Homo sapiens: one gene and its partner. The protein of the gene in region 1 purifies or fractionates together with the protein of each later gene. This does not show direct contact. Each region holds a gene or a part of one and is shown in the gene's direction. Other genes may lie near its edges.

Evidence for each region.
Region 2: the proteins of ACOT12 (region 1) and ZMYM6 purify together in Homo sapiens (affinity purification with mass spectrometry; 2 studies listed by BioGRID and IntAct, with this or other methods). This does not show direct contact.

Annotation. Positions count from the first base shown.
Region 1 is NC_000005.10:81,388,693-81,401,313, reverse strand, and holds the start of ACOT12 (acetyl-coenzyme A thioesterase), read left to right. Parts: upstream 1-7,179; 5' UTR 7,180-7,199; coding exon 7,200-7,326; intron 7,327-12,621. UniProt on the Homo sapiens protein: Catalyzes the hydrolysis of acyl-CoAs into free fatty acids and coenzyme A (CoASH), regulating their respective intracellular levels. Preferentially hydrolyzes acetyl-CoA.
Region 2 is NC_000001.11:35,005,048-35,017,237, reverse strand, and holds part of ZMYM6 (zinc finger MYM-type protein 6), read left to right. Parts: intron 1-2,075; coding exon 2,076-2,250; intron 2,251-2,349; coding exon 2,350-2,541; intron 2,542-4,656; coding exon 4,657-4,807; intron 4,808-5,232; coding exon 5,233-5,348; intron 5,349-6,201; coding exon 6,202-6,480; intron 6,481-6,640; coding exon 6,641-6,791; intron 6,792-8,313; coding exon 8,314-8,486; intron 8,487-10,139; coding exon 10,140-10,287; intron 10,288-11,965; coding exon 11,966-12,106; intron 12,107-12,190. UniProt on the Homo sapiens protein: Plays a role in the regulation of cell morphology and cytoskeletal organization.

The DNA of each region.
Region 1 (12,621 bases):
GAGTAATGTGTGTCTAGCCATTAGGTGAGACAGAGGATATGGGTGTGTGCCCAGAGCAGGACACTGCCCTGAGTCCAGTGGGGAGGTCGGGAGGGAGCCCCCTCAGGGCCAAGGGTGGCAGAGGAGCAGGGAGGTCGCTGTCATATGGGGGACTGACCAAAGAAGTCAATCTATTAAGCATCACAGAAGCCAGGTTTCTTGTCAGAAAACGGAGTTGAAAATATGAGGAGGGAGAAAACTAGAATTATCCCTTCAGGTGGAGTTGGAATCTGACCCACCCATCTGAACTGGTGGTTTTCTAGGTGGCTGGTGTGTTCATTTCCTACAGCTGCTGTAACAAATTGCCACAAACTGCGGGGCTGAAGACAAATTGATTCTCCCACAGTTCCAGAGCCCAGATGTCAGAACTCAAGGTGTTGGCAGGGCCGTAATCCCCAAAAGCTCTAGGGGAGATTTCCTTCCCTGCCCCTTTCAGCTTCTAGTGGCTCCACAACACTGAGTCCTCACATGGTGACCTCGAGAGAAAGGAAAAAAAAAAAAAAAAGGCAAAGAGGGCCTACGTAGATAGTACTCTCCAGCCCTGTTACAAGGGCACTCACTAATACATTCATGTGGGCAGAGCCATCGGGACTTATCACTTCCCAAAAGGTCCCACATCTTAAAACTGTCACATTGGGTCTTAGGTTTCAACAGATGAATTTTGGAGGGACACATACATTCAAACCATAGCAGGCTCTGAGGATTCATGTCAACTTCCTCATTTTGATGGTGTGTTATGGTTCAGTAGGAGAAAGTCCTGTTTATAGGAAATTCACACTAAAGTACTTGGGGCTAAGCATCAGGTTGGCAACTTACTTTCAAATGGATCAGAGAAAAATATGTTCTTTGTACAGGACTTCCAAATTTTCTGTAAGTTGGTGATTGTTTTAAAAAACAGACCCAACTCAGCACTGATCTTAAGTCTAGTAGACGGTCAACAGCAGGTTATAATTTCAGGAGCTGCACACAGCCATCAGCCAGTTTCCCTATGTGCTTATCATTCCATTTCATCCTCATTAGAATAGTCAACATTATTTTGTAGCCATTTCCATGTTATCTTTAAACTATGAATTCTATAAAGTTCTAAGGACCAATCTATTTTACTCACCAGCATTTATCCAATGACCAGAACAGTCCTTGCGACAAAGTAGGCACTCAATAAGTATGTGCTGATTGAATGAATGAAGGTGACTTGAAATAGAGGCACCAGCATGGCCTTTGGAGCTAGAACTGGGCACCACTCCCATCTCTCCCACTTCCCATGTGTCCTCTGCACCACATGCATCAACTTCCTAGCCCAGCTGAACAAGAGCCAGACTTTCTAGATTTGAATCCTGACTCTACTACTTCCTAGTTATGTGGTCTTGGGCAAGTTCCATCAGTTTCCTCATCTATAAAATGGGAATTGTAGTAGTTTGTATACTTCATAGGGATGTGTGGCATGTTGTAAGTGCTTATGAATTATCTGGGCTTGATTTCCCAGCTCTTTAAAGAGAATATTACTTGCAAGGTTGTTGTGAGACTTGACCCTCCATAAATAGCAGTTATCATGATTCCATTTGATAATACTTTCTATGATCTAATCACAACTTTATGAAATAGGGAAAGCATCCCTATTTTGTTAAAAAAAAAAAAAAACAAACTAATGTGTAAATTGAGTGATACATTCGAGTTCAACACTAGCAAGGATAGGGTCTAACTCAGACACAAACACATCTCTCCAGACCCAAGACTGTGACCCTTTTCCCCGCATCACAAATTCCTTTACAGGTCTGAAAAGGCCCCCTGTTAAACTGAAGATGTTCTTGGGAAGGACTGCACTGTAAGCTTTACTCTTTTAAAGAAAGACACCATACGGCAGTAGTTTTTAACATACTGTGCAGCAGAAGCACATGGAAAAATTGTTAAAAACAGGTTATTGGCTGGGTGTGGTGGCTCACGCCTGTAATCCCAGCACTTTGGGAGGCCGAGGCGGGTGGATCACAATGTCAGGAGTTCGAGACCAGCCTGACCAACATGATGAAACCCCGTCTCTACTAAAAATACAAAAATTAGAATGGCATGGTGGCATGTGCCTGTAATCCCAGCTACTCAGGAGGCTGAGGCAGGAGAATCGCTTGAACCCAGGTGGCGGAGGTTGCAGTGAGCCGAGACTATGCCATTGCACTTCAGCCTGGCCAACAGAGCGAGACTCCATGTCAAAAAAAAAAAAGTTACTGGCCCCACCCCTGGAATTTCGGATTCAGTATGTATGGGTTGAGCTGGAAAATCTTGAGAACCACTCCCCTAAGGGGAAGTAGCTGAAAGCTGGCTTAGAAAGCAGGAAATGGTGTGGGCAGGAGAGATCTGGGGAAAGCCAGGGAGGCAGGAAGGGGCAGCTTTAAGAGCCAGCCAGAGAGGGGAGGGCTCTGCCAGATGGAAGAAAAAGCACCAGATCAGGCTCTAGCTCAATCTCAGTCTTTGGCAAATCACCTTTTCTGAGATAAAAAGGAGTAATTCTTTTAAAAACAAGCTACCACAGCTCACCCCATACGAAATAATTTGAGTACCCCTGTAACTGTTTCAAAAATCGAATTAATGGCCGGGTGTGGTGGCTCACACCTGTAATCCCAGCACTTTGGGAGGCTGAGGCGGGAGGATCATGAGGTCAGGCATTCGAGACCCACCCGGCAACATAGTGAAACCCCGTCTACTAAAAATACAAAAAATTAGCTGGGTGTGGTGGCGGACACCTGTAATCCCAACTACTCAGGAGGCTGAGGCAGGAGAATTGCTTGAACCTGGGAGGCAGAGGTTGCAGGGAACAGAGATCGTGCCATTGCACCCCAGCCTGTGCGCCACTGTGAGACTCCGTCTCAAAAAAAAAAAAAAAAAAAAAAAATTTTAAACTTCCAAAAAAAATCTTCAGGGCCCAGATAGTTTCACTGGAGAATTCTACCAAAAGTGTAAAGAACACCAAATATATACAGTCTTTTTCAGAATACATGGTGGGGGAACATTTCCCGATTCATTTTATGAACCCTGACACCAAAACCAGACAAAGACAGTTTTAAAGAAAGAAAACTGCAGACCAACATGTCCCAAAAATACAGACATAGAAATTCTTATTAAAATATTAGTAAATGGAAATCTGCAATATATAGAAAGAATTGTATACCATGAGCAAGTGGGATGCAGTATTTGAAAACAATGTGCTCCAACATATTCACAGGCAGTGGTGGTGACCGCAAAGGGACTCCACTGAGCAGTAATCAATGGCCTGGGATGAAAGTGGGGCCAAACAAATCTGGGGAAGCAGAAAAATTAGATTCTATACACATGGCTTTTGTTCAAACAAAATAAAGCTCTGTACTCCACACAAATGTGGTGGCTGTTAGGTTCTACACCTAATGCTTGACAGAAAGAAGGGGCCACCGGAAGTGCAGGGACAAACAGGAGCAAGGTTATCTTGAGGCTCCAGGTGCTAAGAGGGACAGTCCAAGCAGAAAACCCATTCCCCAAAGTCACTGCCATCCCTAGAGCAGGGTTCAGGGGCAGAGAAGGACAGGAGACCCTCCAGTCAAGAAGTTGGCGGCCAAAAGCTGAGAAAACCCATCCTGGAATTTTTGCTTAGGGGCTCTGAGTTTAAACTTTGAACCACATCCTTATAAATTTGTATTTGAATTTGGAAACACTGACCTGACACCTTTTAAAACATACCAAATGTAGAGAGAGAGTTTGATGGCTAATCAAGTTCATCTCTGTATGAAGTACTTGAACTAGCAAACCCTCTGTCTGGGACATATCTCCCACAATGGAAAGGCTCCCGGCTGCCTCTGCTGTTCAGGACAGTAAGGATTTTGGCTCTCTGCCTTGCCCACATGGCCACGGCACTCACCATTCTGAGTCCTAGTCCAAGCTGACAGCGTCTTCCTGTCCTACTGAGATAAAGCTCCAGCTGAAAGCTTGCTCTTGCTCTGAAATCTGCAGAAGTCCTGGGGAGTTCATCTCCTGGGACCAGCCCTTAGTCAATGAAGGATGCCAGTCAGAGGATAAAAACCCCAGGGTTCATGCCAGTGGGAGGGATGGCTGGGGCTGTTCTTCACAAACTGTAATGTGCCCCTGAATCACCTAGGAATCTTAATAAAATTTAGACTCTAATTCAGTAGGTCTGAGTTGGAGCCTGAAATTCTGCATTTATAATTTTTTCTTTTCTTTTCTTTTCGAGACAGGGTCTCACTGTGTCACTCAGACTGAAGTGCAGTGGCCCAATCATGGCTCACTGCAGCCTCGACCTCCTGGGCTCAAGCAATCCTCCCACCTCAGCCTCCCAAAGTAGCTGGGACCACAGGCATATGCTACCTTTCCTGGCTAATTTTTAAATTTTTTTTTTTTTTTTATAGAGACAAGGTCTCTCTATGTTACTCAGGCTGGTCTCAAACTCCTAGGATGAAGTGATCCTCCTGCCTCAGCATCCCAAAGTGCTGGGATTATAAGCATGAGCCAACACTCCCGGCCTGAGATTCTGCATTTCTAAGAGGATCCTAGGTGAGGCTGAGGCTGCTTACCTGGGGACTACACTTTGATGCCCCTACCAGTGCTTTCTGCAATTTCCTCCCAAATAAACTGTCTGCTCTCAAATTCTTGTCAGAGGCTCTGTTTCTGGAGAAAGCATTTTTTTTTCTACCTCTCTACTTATATTCCAGGTTCCTTGTTCTTAGTTTTCACAAAACCCAGCCACTACCTTACAATGTGACCCAAGGAAATCACTTCATTTCCTCATCTCTAGAATAAGAGTTTAGACTGTCCAGTTCCCCTTCCCACTCCAGCATTTTAAAGATTTTCTCGTTATTCTAGTGATTGTGGAACTTCCCACACTTTTTTGGATCAGCTTTCCTGCTCCTGTGTACAAACTTTTAAAATCAAGCTGGCTTCACATTCTGCTTATCTTCAAAAATGTCTCTAAACACAAATGAAACTCGACCTTTTATTCAAGCATAATAGTAAAAATCTTTGACACCAGAGAGAAATGGAGGTAACAAATGTTCATGCATGCAGATGACATTTTCATTGTAAAAGGAAGAAAGGGACCATTCAGAAAAACACAAGAATAGTAAAATGAAAATTAGTATGAAACCAACAAAAGATATGAAACCATAATCTGAAGACATCTAAACAGGAGATAATAAAGATAAGAAAACACAGCAGTGAATTTGTGTACCATGTCTGCTTTTAAAGCAACATCTCTAGACAAACACACAAATATACACATGCTGTCCCCTTCAAGAAAATCATTTTGGAAACCCATCCTCTTACACTTATGCGTAAACATTTTTGAAATTTCTTCTTCTTTTTCTTTTTTTTTTTTTTTTTTTTTGAGACTCAAGCTCACTGCAACCTCTGCCTTTTTGGCTCAAGTGATCCTCCTGCCTCAGCCTCCTGAGTAGCTGGGACCACAGGGACACACCACCACGCCCAACTAATTCTTGTATTTTTGGTAGAGAGAGGGTTTCACCATGTTGCTCAGGCTGGTCTTGAACTCCTGAGCTCAAGCAATTTACCTAACCTCAGCCTCCCAAAGTGCTGGGATTATAGGCATGAGCCACTGCGCCTGGCCTAAGTTTCTTTAGTTTATAAGAAACCAAGTATACAACCATACACATAATTCAATATCACCACTTTAGTCACCACTTTTTACCCAAAATAATACAACCCAGCCTAAATGCAAACTTTATTTCCAGTAATTTAATAAACTTCCCAAATATTAATACAGTTCACTCATGTAACTGTCAGCTATTGCTGCATAACAGACAACCCCCAAAATCACAGTGGCACACAACAATAAGTAGTTATGTCTCACTCAAGAGTCTTCATGTCTGCTGGGTTGCTCTGCTTCAGGCTGTGAGTCCTCCGGCTGGCTGAGATGCCTCTGCAATACGTGAATTCAGTCTGGTACCCAGATGCTAATAGGCAGCTACTTGACCTCATGGCAGAGGTCAGATGTTCCTGAGAACAGAAACACGGTGCTTCTAAAGGCAAGACTGGTGGTACACTGCTATCTCTCCACATTCCATTCTTAAGCAAGCCACATGGCCAAGTCCAAGGTCAATAAATGACTCTCACAGAGTTATTGGTAGATGGAGTGAATATATGATAATCTATCAATTCCTAAATTATGATTTCTCAATACAGAAGTCATTAAAAAGGCATTTTCCAAGGAGGAGTGCCAAAAGCGATGTAATAACGTTATCATTGAAATAAGTGTATAGCTACATAATGGGACCATCTTGGATGCACAAGTTTTTGTTTGCTTTTAAAAGTTATTTTAATGCCTTTTATATAAGTCAGACTTCATGCTTGCCTCAGTGAAAACATGCAATTCCTATTTATGATTGGATTGTCCTGAAACCTATACACAGAGGCTCCTAAAAGCTATCAAGTCAACATTTCCTTATTTCTTCACTTTCATTTTAAAAAAAATCTTTTAAAAAGGAAAGAAAAATACCAGAATCTCCATTCTGATGTCGCCATGCTGAGGCTTGGCAAGCCAAAAATATAAGGATGAAAAGGCACCACCAATTCGTGAGAGTCGGCTAGGCTTCTTCGTGCTATTCCGGACAGTCAGGAGCCCTGGGTTCCAGCCAGGTGATCGGGTCGCTTATCGGCTCCTATCACCTCAGCTGCTTGCTCCACTTCTCCGGGTTTCCAGTTCTCCATCGTAAATGTGCTCCCTGGAGCAGCCTCCCCTGACAGTCAGACATCCACCAATCCATTAGATGCTGGAGGTTTTCTGGAGACACTGTTTCCCTAATGAGGACTGCTTTGTACAGTCACTGATAGCAGCTCTAGAAAGTGTAACAGCTTTTTTATCTCAAAAGCTGTTCCTCGCGCTCCGGCTCTCGGGGAGCCGCCTTCCAGACCTGTCTACCCGGGAGCCCCCTCCCCGCGCACTTCCCAGACTTCTCCTGAGACCCGAGAGCGCTGGTTTTCCCCCACTCGCGATAGTCCTGGGATGACAGTGCGGGCCCCCTCACTCGCAGCTCCCACCACCTGGCGGCCAGGGGTTCGCGGCCCGGGCGGGCGGCGCCAGTGCCCTCTGGAGCTGGGCGGGGAGGGCGGGGCGGGCGGAGCGGGCATGGTGGGGTGTCGGGGGCCGCAGGCGTAGCGCTCTCGCCCTGGCCATGGAGCGGCCGGCGCCCGGCGAGGTGGTCATGAGCCAAGCCATCCAGCCGGCGCACGCCACTGCGCGCGGCGAGCTGAGCGCGGGGCAGCTGCTCAAGTGGATCGACACCACCGCCTGCCTGGCGGGTAGGCGGGCGCCGGGGCTGCGGGGAGGCGCGGGACCGGGGCTGCGGGAGCGGCGGCGGCTGGGGGCTGGGGGGGGTAGGAAGGCGAGGAAGGTACTTGCGGAGAGCTGAACCCTGCGCAGCCAGGGATAGGGGTGTTGCAACAGTGCGCCCGCGCTGGGCATGGCCGAGACCGGTGGTTCCCAAATGTGTGGCTCTCGGGACTCCTTCATTCCATTAAACAAGTGAGGAGCCCAGAGAGCTTCTGCGGGGTTTTTTGTTTGTTTGTTTGTTGTTGTTGTTGTTGAGCTCTCTCCCGGGCTGGAGAGCGGTGGCGCCATCAGAGGTCGCTGCAGCCTCGACCTCCTGAGCTAAAGCGATCCTCCCACCTCAGCCTCCAGAGTAACTAGGACCACAGACGCACGCCACCAGGCCCAGCTGACTTTGGGAGTTTTGTTTTGTTTTGCTTTTGTAGAGATGGGGTCTCACTATGTTGCCCAGGCTGGTCTCAAACGCCTGGACTCAAGTGATCCTGAAGTGTTGGGAGGCCCCAGCCTCCCAAAGTGTTGGGATTACAGGCATGAGCCACCGCACCCAGGCAGCTTTTGTTTATGTAGGCTATTTATATCACATTTACCGTAATGGAAATTTAAAATTTTTAATTATTTTTAAAAAAGAAATGGACTACATTGTTAGCATAACATTTTTAATTAAGAAATAACTATTTTCCACAAGAACAAAAGTGTAGCGAGAGGAGTGGTGATAAAGGTTACATCCTGGCGAGTCTCTCTAAGGTCTGGCTAGTGGAGGATTGCTGACTACTCATACCTGCTTCTGCATTCACCCTGCTGCTACCACACCCTTATGTAGTCTCTGGAAAACTCCACTGTGTTCTTGTGACAGAATGACAGTAAAAATGGCAAAAACATTTATTAAGGACTGAATTATATCCCCCACACCACCCACCGAAATTTATACACTGAAGTCCTAACCCCTGGTGTGACTCTATTTGGAGTGAAGAATTAAGGCTAATGAGGTCATAAGAGTGGAATCCTGGTCCCATACAATTAATGTCCTTATAAGAAGAGACACTGGAGAGCTTCTCTCTGCCATGTGAGGCCACAGCAGGAAGACAGCCATCCACAGGCCAGGAAGAGAGCCCTCACTAGGACCTACAATGGGCAAGCACCTCGATTTGGAACTTCCCTGCCTCCACAATTGTGAGAAATCAATGATTCGTTTAAGCCTTTTTTTTTTTTAACAGGATTTGAGATTGGTTATATTAACAATGGAAACATGAATACAAAATTAATCCACACATAGGAAAAAAGAATAATACATAAACCACTGAGGTTGCTAATAATAATGATGCCTGTTTCCAAGGCAACTGAATACATTATGAGACCACTGAAGTGACTTTTAGTTACCTTGCTTAGTGCCTCTGTCTTGTGATGGAGAAACAATGGCCCACCTGCAATTGTCATCATTTCTATGACCTGACATCTTTGGAAACCATGGAAAGATCCAATTGACAATCAATTACTCTATACCTTAATAGTTACATTACTATTAGTAGTATAATATTAATAACTGATAATGTTACTAATATTAAGAAAACCTGTATGATAAAGTTGGTTTGGGCAACATGAATAACGCCTGTGTTAAACACTTTATGGTGACCTGAGGCACCACATAAGCAGGGGACATTATTTAGCCAAGGTGTAACTGAATCTGTGTAGTAATATAAAACTGATTTCTCTGGGATTTTCTCAGAGTTTTTTATAGGCCAGCATTATCTCTTTAGCCACATTACTGCAATCCCAGTCATGGCCCCCAAGGCATTTCTATGACCCCTAGGCACTGCTGGATTCCAAAATGTCTTCTCAATATTTAAAGAAAGATGAAATATTCTCACTATCCTTACTTCTGTCAGTGGCCCCATTATTTTTCCAGTCCCTTAAGTCTAAAGTCTTGAAGCTATCTGAGTAATCCTCTATCTCACACGTCCATGTATTATTTTGGAACATCTCACACACACGGTTTTTTATTTGTGAATCTTTTCCAGGGTTTACTATCTCTGGAGTGGCACCCAACTCATCTAGTTGAGCAAGTCAAAAGTCTAGGAGTCATCCTTGATATTTCTCTCTCCACCTTACTTCTCACTTCACATACTCTATGCATGGAGCAAGTCCTATCAGTGTTACCCCCTAAAGGAGTCTCTGAAATCCAAGCACTTTGCTGCACCCCCATTGCGACCATCTACTCCAAGCTATCATCATGTTTCATGCAGACTTCAGCAGTGATTTCCAAACTCATCTCCATTCGTTCTGGTCTCCTCTCCACACTGCTTCTAAAGTAATCTTTGAAGATGCTAATCTGATTGATCATGTCATATGTTTTGTTCATTTTTCCCTTTCTTTTCTTCACCAAGGGCTTTAAGGATTTTTCTAAGATGTTCAAGTGCTTCCTACTAAAAAATCTCCCACAGATAATAATTATAAACTCTGGGCAAAACACTAAATAAAAGAGACTTAAGGCAGGTGAAAAGTGAACAAAAGTAGGCTTATAACACTTGAAAGTTAACACATGAAAGAACAAAGTGGTGTTGGCTTTTTCTGTGTTTGTTTTATAAATGACTTGAAGCCTGAAAGAAAATGCCAGTCTGCTCCCAGCTATAGTTCTGATGGAAAACCCACAGGCTTGCTGGTTTGAAGAGCCCAAAGACAGGGTTTGGGAAAAGCACAGCTACTGAATGAAATACAAAAGGGAAAGTTCCAGAAAGGAAAGAGCCAGAGAGACAGAGCCCTAAAATCTATCTATAATCTTTTCCCAGATATCTGGCAAATCTTGAATCATGTATACATAGGACAGACTCCAAACCTCCTGGTTGAGGCCAAAAGAACTGAAAATAGTTGTGCCCATCTCTAGGTAGACAGATTATAGTTTTGGTTTGGTCAGGTTAACTGCTTGCTTTAAAAAACAAAACCAAAAACAAAACCAACACTTTTCAGAGAAACACAGTTTCTACAATGGATCACTCACAATGGCTAGGATATTATCCAAAATTACTTGAAATACAGAGGGAAACATGATTTATTCTTAAGAGAAAAGATGATCAATGGAGATTCATCCCTAGACAACCCTGATGCTGGAATTAAGCTTCAAGGATTTTAAAGCAGCTAGTATAACTGTGCTCAATAATATAATTAAAAATATGATAATAAAGATTGCTGTAATCCCAGCACTTTGGGAGGCTGAGGCAGGTGGATCACTTGAGGTCAGGAGTTCAAGACCAGCCTGGTCAACATGATGAAACCCTGTCTACTAAAAATACAAAAATTAGCCGGGTGTTGTGGCAGGTGCTTTTAATCCCAGCTACACAGGAGGCTGAGGCAGGAGAATCACTTGAATCTGGGAGGTGGAGATTGCAGTGAGCCGAGATTGTACCACTGCACTCCAGCCAGTGCTGGAGTCTCATTTGAGAATGAGACTCCATCTCAAAAGAAAAAGAAAAAGAAGAAAAAGATTGAAAAGACAGTACATTTCTGCAGAGTAATAGAAACTATTTTTTAAAAGCCAAATGGTAATTCCAGAACTGAAAAATACAGTGTCTAAAATAACAAACTCAATGGCTAGGCTTAACAGCAGAATGGACATGGCTGAGAAAAGAGTTAGTAAATGCAAAAATACATCAATATAAATTATCCAATCTAAGAACAGAAAAAAATGAATTTTAAAAATAAAGTGTGGCCAGGTACAATGGCTCATGCCTATAATCCTAGCACTTTGGGAGGCTCAGGTAGGAGGATGGTTTGAGCCCAGGAACTTGAGACCAGCCTGGGCAACATAGAGAGATCCTGTCTCTACCAAAAAAAGAAAATGTTAAAATTAGCCAGGCATGGTAGCATGTACCTGTAGTCCCAGCTACTCAGGAGGCTGAGGTGTGAGGATGACTTGAGCCTGGGAGGTCGAGGCTGCAGTGAGCCATGATTGCACCACTGTACTCCAGCCTGGGTAACAGAGCAAGACCCTGTCTCAAAAAAAAAAAAAAAAATACATAAATAAAATAAAGTGTCAGAGATTTGTGGAAAAATAAAACATAAACATAATTAGAGTTCCAAATATGGTGAAAGACATACAATTACAGATTCAAGGTCATAGAACATCAAGAAAAACTAATACAGGCTGGGCCTGGTGGCTCACACCTGTAATCCCAGTACTTTGGGAGGCTGAGGCAGGCAAATCACCTGAGGTCAGAAGTTCAAGACCAGCCTGGCCAACATGGTGAAATCCCATCTTTACTAAAAATACAAAAATTAGCTGGGCATGGTGGCGCACGCCTGTATTCCCAGCTACTCAGGAGGCTGAGCAGGAGAATCTCTTGAACCCAGGAGGCGGAGGTTGCAGTGAGCCAAGATTGTGCCACCACACTCCAGCCTGGATGACAGAGTGAGACTCTGTCTCCAATTTAAAAAAAGAAAGAAAGAAAAACTAATACAAAGAATACATCCAGGCATATCATAGTCAAACTATGATGAAGAGAAAATCTTGAATGCAGCCAGACTGAAACACCGTATATAGGAGAACAACAATTAGAATTACCACTGACCTCATCAGAAACAGTGGAGACCAGAAGGCAGTGCAACAATATCTTGAAGAATAATAATTACAAAAACTTTGAACCAAGAGCTTCAAGGCCCTGTGCATAGCCTGTCCTCAGCCTTCACTCCAGCCTCATCTCACCCACTCTCCCTCCTACTCTCTGCATTGCAGTCACCAGGACCTTTGTAGTCACTGTTCCCTCTGCTCAGCAGGCCTTCCCCTCCTCTGCCCTCCAGCCTTCCTGGATACCCCACCTAGTGTATTATCTCAGTTACTGACTGTCATAAAATCCCTGTTTTCTTCAGAGCACTTAGTCCATTTTGTCATTATGTATCTGTATTAGTCCATTTTCATGCTGCTGATAAAGACATATCTGAGACTGGGTAATTTATAAAGAAAAAGAGATTTAACGGACTCACAGTTCCATGTGGGTGGGGAAGCCTCACAATCATGGTGGAAGGTGGAAGGCACTTCTTATATGGCGGTGGCAGGAGAGAAAATGAGAACCAAGCACAAGGGGTTTCCCCTTATAAAACCATCACATCTCGTGAGGCTTATTCACTATTATGAGAATAGCACAGGAAAGACCTGCCCCCATGATTCAATTATCTCCCACCGGTTCCTTCCCACAACATGTGGGAATTATGGGAGCTACAACTCAAGATGAGGTTTGGGTGGGGACACAGCCAAACCATATCAATATCCATTTAATTAA
Region 2 (12,190 bases), on another chromosome or scaffold:
TTTACCATTGAATATACCTGTATAATAAAGGTGCAGGATGGGAGGCAGGATAGTGGAATAATTAATTCCATAGACTAGAATCAGATTGCCTGGATTAGTATTTCAGCTTTATTGCCTACTAGCAATATGACTTTGACAAGCTATTTAACCTCTCATTCAGTTTCCTCATCTGTAAAGTGGCAGTTACAGTAATACTTAACCTTATAGTGGTTTGGGGATTTTTTTTTTTTTTTGAGACACGGTCTCACTCTGTCACCCAGGCTGGAGTGCAGTGGCGTGATCCCAGCTCACTGCAGCCTCTACCTCCCGGGCTCAAGCAATCCTCCCACCTCAGCATCCTGAGTAACTGAGACCATGGGCATGAGCCAGCATGCCCTGCTAATTAAAAAATTTTTTTTATAGAGATCGGGTCTTGCTCTGTTGCCCAGGCTGGAGTGCAGTGGCATGATCATGGCTCACTGGAGTCTTGAACTCCCTGGGCTCAAGCAATCCTTCTGCCTTGGCCTTCCAAAGTGCTAGGATTATGGGGGTGAGCCACTGCACTCCATCATTTTTGTGGTATTTAAATTGGGTAATTTGAGTAAAGAGAATAATGCTTGGCACATAGTAATTACTCAACACACTTATTGTAGTATATATTATTGCCATTATTATTTACTTTGTGGCCTGCACTAGTGTTTATAATTAGTGACTATTTCCTTTAGTTTTTATACTTGTCAGAAGAATGGCAATACTTAACCTCTGTTTTACCAGGGTATTGCTATTTGTGCTTATTGCAATAATTAGCTCTTACAAATTGGCTCTAGGAGTCTCACAGAACCACCCAATTATTTTTGTTCTTCCTGTCTCGTTCTTGTTTCCATCTGTCCTCTGATACAAAGCCTTAACAGCCCTTTTGTCATATATCATGCTTATTTTTTGTCTTCTGTTAGCTCATTTGTTTCTCAAAATCTTGCACTTTTAATTTTTAAACATTCATTTATTGTCTTGGCTGGACACGGTGGCTTATGCCTGTAATCCCAACACTTTGGGAGGCTGACGCAGGCGGATCGCGAGGTCAGGAATTTGAGACCAGCGTGGCCAATATGGCGAAACCCCGTCTGTACTAAAAATACAAAAATTAGCCTGGCATGGTGGCACGTGCTGGTGTCCCAGCTACTCGAACCGGAGGCTGAGACAGGAGGATCGCTTGAACCCAGGAGGTGGAGATTGCAGTGAGCCGAGATCGTGACACTGCACTCCAGCCTGGGCAGCAGAGCGAGACTCCGTCTCACAAAAAAAAAAAAAAAAAAGAAAGAAAAAATTCATTTATTGTCTCATTTCAGTTCTACTTTGGGCAGCCTCTGGCTAATGAGAGAACCAGTGTCTTGTGGTCTGGAGTTGTGGGATGGACACTGGTCCCATTGGCTATAGCAGATGAAACTTGGTTGGGGCTGGAAGCCTTCCTATTTTTGTCTTCAGCATCTGGCTGGCCACATATATATATATATATATTTTTTTTTTTTTTTTTTTTTGAGATGGAGTCTAGCTCTGTTGCCAAGGCTGGGGTGCAGTGGCACAATCTCGGCTCACTGCAACCTCCACCTCCCGGGTTCAAGTGATTCTCCTGCCTCAGCCTCCCGAGTAGCTGGGATTACAGGCGCCCACCACCACGCCCATCTAGTTTTTGTATTTTTAGTAGAGACGAGGTTTCACCATGTTGGCCAGGCTGGTCTCGAACTCCTGACCTCATGATCCGCCCACCTCGGCCTCCCAAAGTGATGGGATTACATGCATGAACCACCGCACCTGGCCCTGGCTGGCTATATTTTAAATATAATTCACTCTTGACAAATTTATGAATTAGATATTATAAGCCCCATTTTATACATGAAGAAATTGAGATAGTAATTACATCATTCATTGTCACTCACCTGATAAATAGCAGAACTCATCAAACCCAGGTTTGCAGATTCCTTATCCTTTTTCTACCATACAGTACCTGCCCTTAGTAAGTGTTATTTCACCTCACAAAGAGGAGGAAGTTACAGTTGTGAAGAATACATTTCATTTTTACCTTTGTTATTTATTTTTAGAGACATTTTAAATCCTAAGGATGTGATCACAACTCGCTTTGAGAATTCCTATCCTAGCAAAGATTTCTGCAGCCAATCATGCTTGTCATCTTATGAGCTAAAGAAAAAACCTGTTGTTACCATATATACCAAAAGCATTTCAACTAAGTGCAGTATGTGTCAGAAGAATGCTGATGTAAGTTACATTTTACTTTTATTGGGATTCTGCTGAAAGAGATTTTTTTTTAACTGGCTCTGCTTATTTTGTGTGTGTATGTGTGTGTTTATTTCCTAGACTCGATTTGAAGTTAAATATCAAAATGTGGTACATGGTCTTTGTAGTGATGCCTGTTTTTCAAAATTTCACTCTACAAACAACCTCACCATGAACTGTTGTGAGAACTGTGGGAGCTATTGCTATAGTAGCTCTGGTCCTTGCCAATCCCAGAAGGTTTTTAGTTCAACAAGTGTCACGGCATACAAGCAGGTATGAATATCTATTTGTTGCATGTACTTAGGCCCACTCCTTCTGATTTGGCTGCACAGGGATGAACTACAAAATGAGAGTGAGCTCCTCCCATTAGTCCATCCTGATATGTGATTTCCCTTCCAGAAAATGGGATAGATTCTGATGGTGTGAGGGATGATTGTGGTGGTAAGTTGATATAGGTAAAATAGGTCCCTTTTTTAAGGCTCCCTTCATAGCTAAGAATTTACAAATGTGATTTCTTTTCTTTTTTTGAAATCGAGATAGGGTTTTGCCATGTTGCTCAGGCCGGTGTTGAACTCCTGAGCTCAAGCCATCCACTCGCCTCAGCCTCCCAAAGTGCCGGGATTACAGGCATGAGCAACCACACCTCGGCCTCATAAATGTAATTTCATGATTTTCTGTGAGCATGAAATATTTTGTGATGTATTGATAGCAAGAAAACCATATTATAAATAAACCATAAGCAAGAGTTAAGATGATAAAATCAGTGAATCTAAACAAAGCTTGTCTTTTTCATTTCAAAATGTGTTTGGGAATGAATTGTAATTATTTGGTCAACACTGTCTCATGAGAATACTTCAAGTAATTTTATTTATTGTAATGAATAATGGATTAAGCCGGTTACTAAATATTATCACCTTGTGTCAATTTAATTATTACTAATTTGTGGTTTTAAAAAGTTTTTCTTAAAGAAGTATCTTGTAAGGCCGGCGCGGTGGCTCACGCCTGTAATCCCAGCACTTTGGGAGGTCAAGGCGGGTGGATCACGAGGTCAGGGGTTCGAGACCAGCCTGACCAACATGGTGAAACCCTGTCTGTACTGAAAATACAAAAATTAGCTGGGCGTGGTGGCGGGCGCCTGTAATCCCAGCTACTCAGGAGGCTGAGGCAGGAGAATTGCTTGAACCCGGGAGGTGGAGGTTGCAGTGAGCTGAGATTGTGCCACTGCAGTCCAGCCTGGGTGACAGAGCAAGACTGTCTCAAAAACAAACAAACAAACAAAAAAAAAAAACAAAGATGTATCTTGTAAATGATAATTAAACTTTTTTTCAGTTAGCAAGTTTGATTTGTTGCTTCCTTTGAGCAGTTGGTAATGGACATATGGACATTCATCACTGAAAAGAATCTCTTTTTTTAAGATTTGCCATTTTTGGCAGTCTGGTTCTACTTTCACAGGAAAAGAATCCATGTTATTTTATATATGATCCCAAAATCAGTTCCATTTCTAATTTTGTTACTAGTATTGTACTCTGTCTTTTTACTAGGAAGATTATGTAGTGAAACCTCACAATTTATATTTTCCTACAATTTCTTTTCATATTGAGAGACCTTATAATGTATCACTGACAGCATAGTGTAGTGGTTAGGAGCCTGAACTTTGGAGCCTGATGAAATGAGTTTAATTTCCTACTTCTTCTGCTCATCTGTTAATTTAAACTTTTTGTTAATGTAATTTTTGAGAGCGCCTCACTCTGTTGTTGAAAGGTTTCTGTGATACACTATATATAAATTTCTTAGCCTGGGGCCTGACTCATGGTAAGCATTCAGTAAGTTATAATATTGGTTATGTAAATGGTAGCTATTTTTATTATTTCTTAAAACATGAATAAACTTATAAGCAGATTTTATTATGAAACTCAGCTTGAAAAATAGGTAGTTGTGTAGGATCTCTATTAATATACATTAAATATCATTTCTATCTCCTGCTAAAGAATCTCACAAATTAAGTAACCTTAAAGGTGGTAGACTCTTCTAGATTGATGTACAAGACTATACCAAGAATGACCCTTTGGTTCATGGGTTAGCTGGTCTTCTCTGGTTATTGGTGATTAAAAAGTATGTAATGACTATTTAATTCATTACTTGTGTTTGAATTCATGTGTTTTGTTTGCTAAGATCTCTATCTGAATAGTTACTAATTTTCTTCAGTTTCTATTTTATTGTTGTCTGGAAGAACTTATTTTCCCACCTCCCAATAGTGTGGTTTCATCATCATGCTCAAATATTTCAACCAAGGACCGTGGTTGTAGGTAGCTTTTCTTTTTACTTTTTTGAACAATATGTAAATATGTATGTTTGTACTAGGTATCTAATGTTATTTTATTTTAATAGAATTCTGCCCAAATTCCTCCATATGCCCTGGGGAAGTCATTGAGGCCCTCAGCTGAAATGATTGAGACTACAAATGATTCAGGAAAAACAGAGCTTTTCTGCTCTATTAATTGCTTATCTGCTTACAGAGTTAAGACTGTTACTTCTTCAGGTAATGTTTAAATTTGATAAATTTATAGATTTAATAACTATTGAAGAAAAACGTAACTGCTTTTCTCTGATTTTGTTACAAGCTAAATTTATCTATTTAGTTAAATAAAAACCCAAGACTGACTTTTAAATAACTGACTTTTATGTGAAAATAGTTTTTCCCCGATTTTCTTGGTTGCAATATATACAGTATTTTATAATTTCATATGTGAGAGGAAAGAAAAAACACTTAAAATTTCCAAGTTAGTTTTTGTGTAAGTGGGACTTAATAGAGGTTAGTTGTGGTTAGATTTCAGATTTTTATAAAGTTCCTTGATTTTTTTGGTATATTATTGATTATTTAATTTTTTCATTCTCCCAATACATTTTTGTATTGTTTGTTCATTGGTATAACTTAATCATTGTTTTTAATTTTTTGTCACCAAGGTGTCCAGGTTTCATGTCATAGTTGTAAAACCTCAGCAATCCCTCAGTATCACCTAGCCATGTCAAATGGAACTATATACAGCTTCTGCAGCTCCAGTTGTGTGGTTGCTTTCCAGGTATGATCTAAGGTAGCACATTATGCATGTGGTTCTGTTAGGCATCGATCTGTGGCACAGTGTTAACTGCTGAAGGCCTGTTCTTATGAAAGTTTAAATTTGAATTAAAAAGAAAAAAATTTGTTTCATCCAGGGGCCCAACCAGGTCATTTCTACAAAATATCTGAACCCAGATATTGGGTCTCAGCAGTTTCTTCTTTATTTAGGATCCTAGCCTAAACTGTCATTCCCTCCCACTTTCTCCCTTGGGTCTCTCCCCTTCAAAAAGATGGAAGCTAGGATTGTGGTTTGGGTAGGTGGTATGGTGAAGAACAGTAGCCTGATGGGATTCACATACCCCTTCCTCTCATCCTGTGTCAGAAACACAGTGACTCCTGGCATGGAATTGTAAGCATCCACTTGTCCCATTTTCTCCTCCCTCTCTGCAATACATACACAAAGAGTAGAGTTTAGTAATCTCCAGGGTAGGAACATGCCTGATGTAGTATCCCTGGCATTAGGGAGAAAGAGACTGCTGGTAGCTATTGTGTCGTAGTAGCCATCAGAAGCTGGTTGATGATGGGAGTGCAGGTAGGGGGAAGTTTTAGGGGGAAGGAGAGGCCTGCTCTAATTTATTAGAGGCATATACTGGAGGTCTTTGTCAGGAAAGCCTGAATTCCAGTCCTTGACCTTTTAATGTTGTATTTCTCAGTCCTTTTATTCTGGAAATATACCATTTAAACTCTTTCTGTGAGATAGAAAATTTTAAAAAATGTTTGTGGGAGACTTGATTTATTAAAATGAGGAAATGAAAAGTACAAAGTTATCTTATTTCTCAGTTGATAAAATCTTTACCTTATTTGTTTTCATTCAGAATGTATTTAGCAAGCCAAAAGGAACAAACTCTTCGGCGGTGCCCCTGTCTCAGGGCCAAGTGGTTGTAAGCCCGCCCTCCTCCAGGTCAGCAGTGTCAATAGGAGGAGGTAACACCTCTGCCGTTTCCCCCAGCTCCATCCGTGGCTCTGCTGCAGCCAGCCTCCAACCTCTTGCTGAACAATCCCAGCAAGTTGCTTTAACCCATACAGTTGTTAAACTCAAGTGTCAGCACTGTAACCATCTATTTGCCACAAAACCAGAACTTCTTTTTTACAAGGTAAAGAGAGATCATGAAAGGGATTGTATATAAACTCATCCAGTAGAAACACTTTTGTGTTTTCAATTTTGATCACTCAATTTGCTTTGACATGAAAAGGAGTTCTTAAAGATAAAGCAACTGTTTAGTTGGCTCTTAATGGACTGTTGTTTCTCTGCAGGGTAAAATGTTTCTGTTTTGTGGCAAGAATTGCTCTGATGAATACAAGAAGAAAAATAAAGTTGTGGCAATGTGTGACTACTGTAAACTGCAGAAAATTATAAAGGAGACTGTGCGATTCTCAGGGGTTGATAAGCCATTCTGTAGTGAAGGTAAAGACAAAGTTGTTTTATTCACAGAGCATGGGTTGTTATAATTCATGACGACTTGGGCAATTAAGCCATGATTAGTTTTCACATTCTTTTTGTCTTACAAGGTGTAATTAGAAGTATTTTGGAGGCCGGGCATGGAGGCTCACGCCTGTAATCCCAGCATTTTGGGAGGCTGAGGTGGGTGGATCACTTGAGGTTGGGAGTTCAAGACCAGCCTGACCAACATGGTGAAACCCCATCTCTGTTAAAAAACACCGTCTCTATACAAAATTAGCCGGGCATGGTGCCGCACGCCTGTAATCCCAGCTACTTGGGAGCCTGAGGCAGGAGAATTGCATGAACCTCAGAGGCAGAGGTTGCAGTGAGCTGAGATCATGCCATTGCACTGCAGCCTGGGCGACGAGCGAAACTCTTGTCTCCAAAAAAAAAAAGGTTTTTTTGAATTGTGTTTATAGTTAATTCACTTTAAAGTCAATCTTTTTATTTATTATTTTTGTTTGTTTATTTTTTTGAGACAAGGTCTTGCCCTGTCACTCAGGCTGGAGTGTGGTGGCATGATCTTGGCTTATTGCAGTCTCTGCCTCCCCGGTTTAAGGGATCCTCCCACTTCAGCCTCCCAAGTAGCTGAAGCTACAGGAGCGTGCCACCATGCCTGGCTAATTTTTTTTATTTTTGGTAGAGACGGGGGGTTTCACCATGTTTCCCAGGCTGGTCTTGAACTCCTGAGCTCAGGTGGTACTCCTGCCTCGGCCTCCCAAAGTGCTGGGATTATAGGCGTGAGCGACTGTGCCTGGCTGAAAGTCAGTCTTTTTAAATGTTGCAGTAATTGCAATAAAAAACTGTAAAAATGATTACATCAGTGGTATTAATAAAGAAAATCTCTTCATAAGTTTAGCTATGACATCAGAGATCTTTTTGTTCTTGCACTCATTTGCGAAGAGGAACTTAAAACAGTTGCTGCTTCTTGGCTTAAAAAACTTTTATACCTCTAATGTTTCTGAATATAAATGGCCTAATATTTAGAGTATATTTAAAAGGTGGTGGCAGGGCGCAGTGGCTCACGCCTGTATTCCCAGCACTTTGGGAGGCCAAGGCGAGCCAGATCACCTGAGGTCAGGAGTTTGAGACCAGCCTGGCCAACATGGCGAAATGCCATCTCTACTAAAAATACAAAAATTAGCTGGGTGTGGTGGCAGGTACCTGTAATCCCAGCTGCTCTACTCAGGAGGCTGAGGCAGGAGAATCGTTTGAACCTGGGAGGCAGAGGTTGCAGTGAGCTGAGATTGTGCCACTGCACTCCAGCCTGGGCAAAACGAGTGAGACTCTGTCTCAAAAAATAAAATAAAATAAAAGGTGGTATGAGTTTGGTTTGTGAATATAGAGACTGTCCTGTAATCTAGAGGCAAATAATTGTGTATTAGAAATTAGCTTAAAGTTTCATATCTAAGACCACAGAAACTTATTATACCTCCTCAGTTAATGTAAATTTGATTTTTCTTCCTTTCATCCCTCTGATCCTCAGTTTGCAAATTCCTCTCTGCCCGTGACTTTGGAGAACGATGGGGAAACTACTGTAAGATGTGCAGCTACTGTTCACAGACATCCCCAAATTTGGTAGAAAATCGATTGGAGGGCAAGTTAGAAGAGTTTTGTTGTGAAGATTGTATGTCCAAATTTACAGTTCTGTTTTATCAGGTAAATGTGATAATATACTTTTTTTGGCTTTCTGAAATCAGTGCAAATTGTTTTTATTTAAAATGTATTCAAATTATGTGAAGAAAAATTTGGTGTTTAGCACTGGATAAAATAAGTTATGGGCTATAATAGAAAAATTCAATTGAATATAAACAGGAAATCTTTGGGATAAAAAGTATAGGATTTCTGCAGACTTTGTTGTTGGTTGGATATGTTCCTTTTATTTTTGCCTTCTTATGAGGCACTTTGCCCTTATTTGACTTCTTTCAGGTTAGAACTTCACATAATGTTGCCTGAAGTGGCTCTCTCATTCAGGTTACTCTGAGGAATTTGAAGTTAGACCTTGTCTCACTTCATAGGTCAAAGGACAATAGCTGGCAACCATTCCTACCTCATTTTTAAAAAGATTAACTTTTTGAAAGGCTAACAATGGTAGCTACAGTTAATTGAACCACTAATACATGTCTGGTGCTCTGTAAGTGTCATTTCATTTAATCCTTACCATAGTCCCAAGAGGTAAGTATATTACTGCCATTTTATAAATAAGGAAAAGGAGAGAGGTCCAGGGAAGTTAAGTAATATGCTCTTGAGGAAGCTGGTAGGTGACAGCAAGACAGCATCTATAACACTCTGGTAAATCACTGTTTGTTTTTCTACCTCTAAAAAAATAGAATTTTATTGTTGGGGGAGGGTAATATATTTTTCATGATTATATAATTAGGGCCAATCACAGTGCTTAAGACAAAGGATGTCTAATTAAATATTTGCTGAATGAATCAAAATCTTTATGACTCCAAAGCCCATATTATATCAACTACTGTAAGCTGCTGCTTAATTTTTTAGAAGTTGAACCTATCTTTATTTTTTTTTTACTTACTTTTTTCATTGTGTATCTTTTCTTCCCCCATCCCACCTGCCCACCCCCCATCCCCCAGCCAGACAGAATCTTGTTCTATTGCTCAGGCTGGTGTGCAGTGGCGTGATCAGTGGGCGATGTTGGCTCCCTGTAGCCTCTGCCTCCTGGGTTCAAGTGATTCTCCTGCCTCAGCCTCCCGAGTAACCAGGAGAGGTGGGCACCACCATGCCCAGTTATGAACCTATCTTTAGATAGATTCCCTTATTGGTAATTTTGAAAACAGAAGAGCATTTTTTTTTTTTTCTATTGAGACAGAGTCTTACTCTGTCACCCAGGCTGGAGTGCAGTGACGCGATCTCGGCTCACTGCAACCTCTGCCTCCTGGATTCAAGCGATTATCTTACCTCAGCCTTCTAAGTAGCTGGGATTACAGGCGTGCGCCACCACACCTGGCTAATTTTTGTACTTTAGTAGATACGGGGTTTCACCATGTTGGTCAGGCTGGTCTTGAACTCCTGACCTCATGATCCGCCCACCTCGGCCTCCTAAAATGCTGGGATTACAGGCGTGATCCCACAATTACCGTGCCTGGCCACAGTTTTTATATTATCTTGATTTAGGGCATCTATATAAAACAAATAATTAAATAAAATCAGTATTTTAAGGTAAGAACCTTACATTTTGTAGTCTCAACTGACTCATATATCCTGTTTTCGTAGTCCCTCTTTTTATGATTAATGTTATCTTTTCATTATTTTATAGTTTTAAGCCTATCTTGTCTAACATTTCTTTTTCAGATGGCCAAGTGTGATGGTTGTAAACGACAGGGTAAACTAAGCGAGTCCATAAAGTGGCGAGGCAACATTAAACATTTCTGTAACCTATTTTGTGTCTTGGAGTTTTGTCATCAGCAAATTATGAATGACTGTCTTCCACAAAATAAAGGTAAAATTAAACTTAGCTAATGGGATTTTTATGTCAGTGCTAGGACACTATCAGCATATACAGTTATAAATAATATAATAAAAACAAAATTTCATTGGATTCAAATAGCCTGAATTTCCTTAAATTTTTCTTTAAGAAGTCTTTAAGATTTCCCCTTGAGGGAAAAGTAATTCTAATACTTTTTGCTCTGATAGTCAAGCACACCAAAAGGCCAATAATGTATATGCACTAATTTTTATAGGAAACTTAGATTTGATTGCTTTTTGATTGAATGTATCTGTACATAAATAACTTAAACTAGGGATATATACTATTTAGTTAATAAACCAGAAATAAAAACAGAAAATCAGGGCAAACAAAGGGAGAGTATAGTTAATATAGTTGCTGTGACTAGTGTAAAATTTGTTTCAGAGCTTGCTTATAGGCAAGGAGAAAAGAACAACACGTTAATTATCTCAGAAAATATAAAATGGAACAGTTCTTCATGGGTAGCAAAGTTTATCCTAGCTAAGAATAAAATAATTTTGCAAGTAGGACAGCTAATATGGTCAGAATATCCAGGTGAGTAGATAGATCCATGATATATTCATAAAGTAGCTCTCCTAAGTATTTCTTTCTAAGTATTAGATTAAAAACATTTGGTAGCCAGGTGCAGTAGCTCGCACCTGTAATCCCAGCACTTTGGAAGGCTGAGATGGGCAAATTACTTGAGGCCAGGAGTTCGAGACCAGACTGGTAAACATGGTGAAACCCCATCTCTACTAAAAATACAAAAATTAGCCAAGTGTGGTGGTGTGTGCCTGTAAGCTCAGCTGCTCAGGAGGCTGAGGCACGAGAATTACTGGAACCCAAGAGATGGAGGTTACAGTGAGCCGAGATCATGCCATGGCACTCCAGCCTGGGCTACAGAACGATATTCTCTCTCTCAGAAAAAAAAGCCACTTGCTATTATGTTCTCTGTTCAAAGCCTGGAGTGCTACCTGATTGACAGAGCTTTGGCTCTTTGCAGTCTGGCCATTGCCTACCTCTGCAGTCTTATTAATGATTACCTTAATTATAAATGCCTTGTGCTAATCTTTCGTGTTAGCCCTCCATTCCCCAGAACCAGTCAGGCTGGTAGTAGAATATTCATTTTATAATATGGGTTAAGAAAACTAGTGTTATGGGGTTGGACAGCTCCCTCATTAACTTATTTATAAAAATTGTCATGTTAAGTTTTTATCTGATGCATGCTTAGGTCTAGGAGTTTTAATAGTCACTAATAGAACAGTCCAGTGAATCCTGAAGCTAATACCTGTCTTTTTTTTTTTTTTTTTTTTTTGAGACTAGGTTTTGCTATGTTGCCCAGGTTGGTCTTGAACTCCTGGGCTTAAGTGATCCCCCTGTTTCAGCCTCCCAAGTAGCTGGGATTACAGGCTGGTGCCACTGTATCCAATACCTGTATTTTTACCTGTTAAATGTCATTTGAGGTTTATGACTTTATAGAATTGGACTCTCTTTAAGTCCTAAAGAACACTAATCTGACCAGAGTCACCCAACCTAACATGATACAGAATCAGATATTTATATTGCTTCTTGAAAACCTAGTTACTAAACAGGGTTTTGTGTGTGAGTGTGAGTGTGTATGAGAGAGAGACCCTTTTGCTTATTCCAGATCTTAACTTTTTATTTTAATCAGTAAATATTTCTAAAGCAAAAACTGCTGTGACGGAGCTCCCTTCTGCAAGGACAGATACAACACCAGTTATAACCAGTGTGATGTCATTGGCAAAAATACCTGCTACCTTATCTACAGGGAACACTAACAGTGTTTTAAAAGGTATGACTTGATATAATGGCATTTGGCTAAGCCATAGAAGTGAGTGTTGTCTAGCCTAAGTAGTTCTCTCTTTTTGAGACAGTT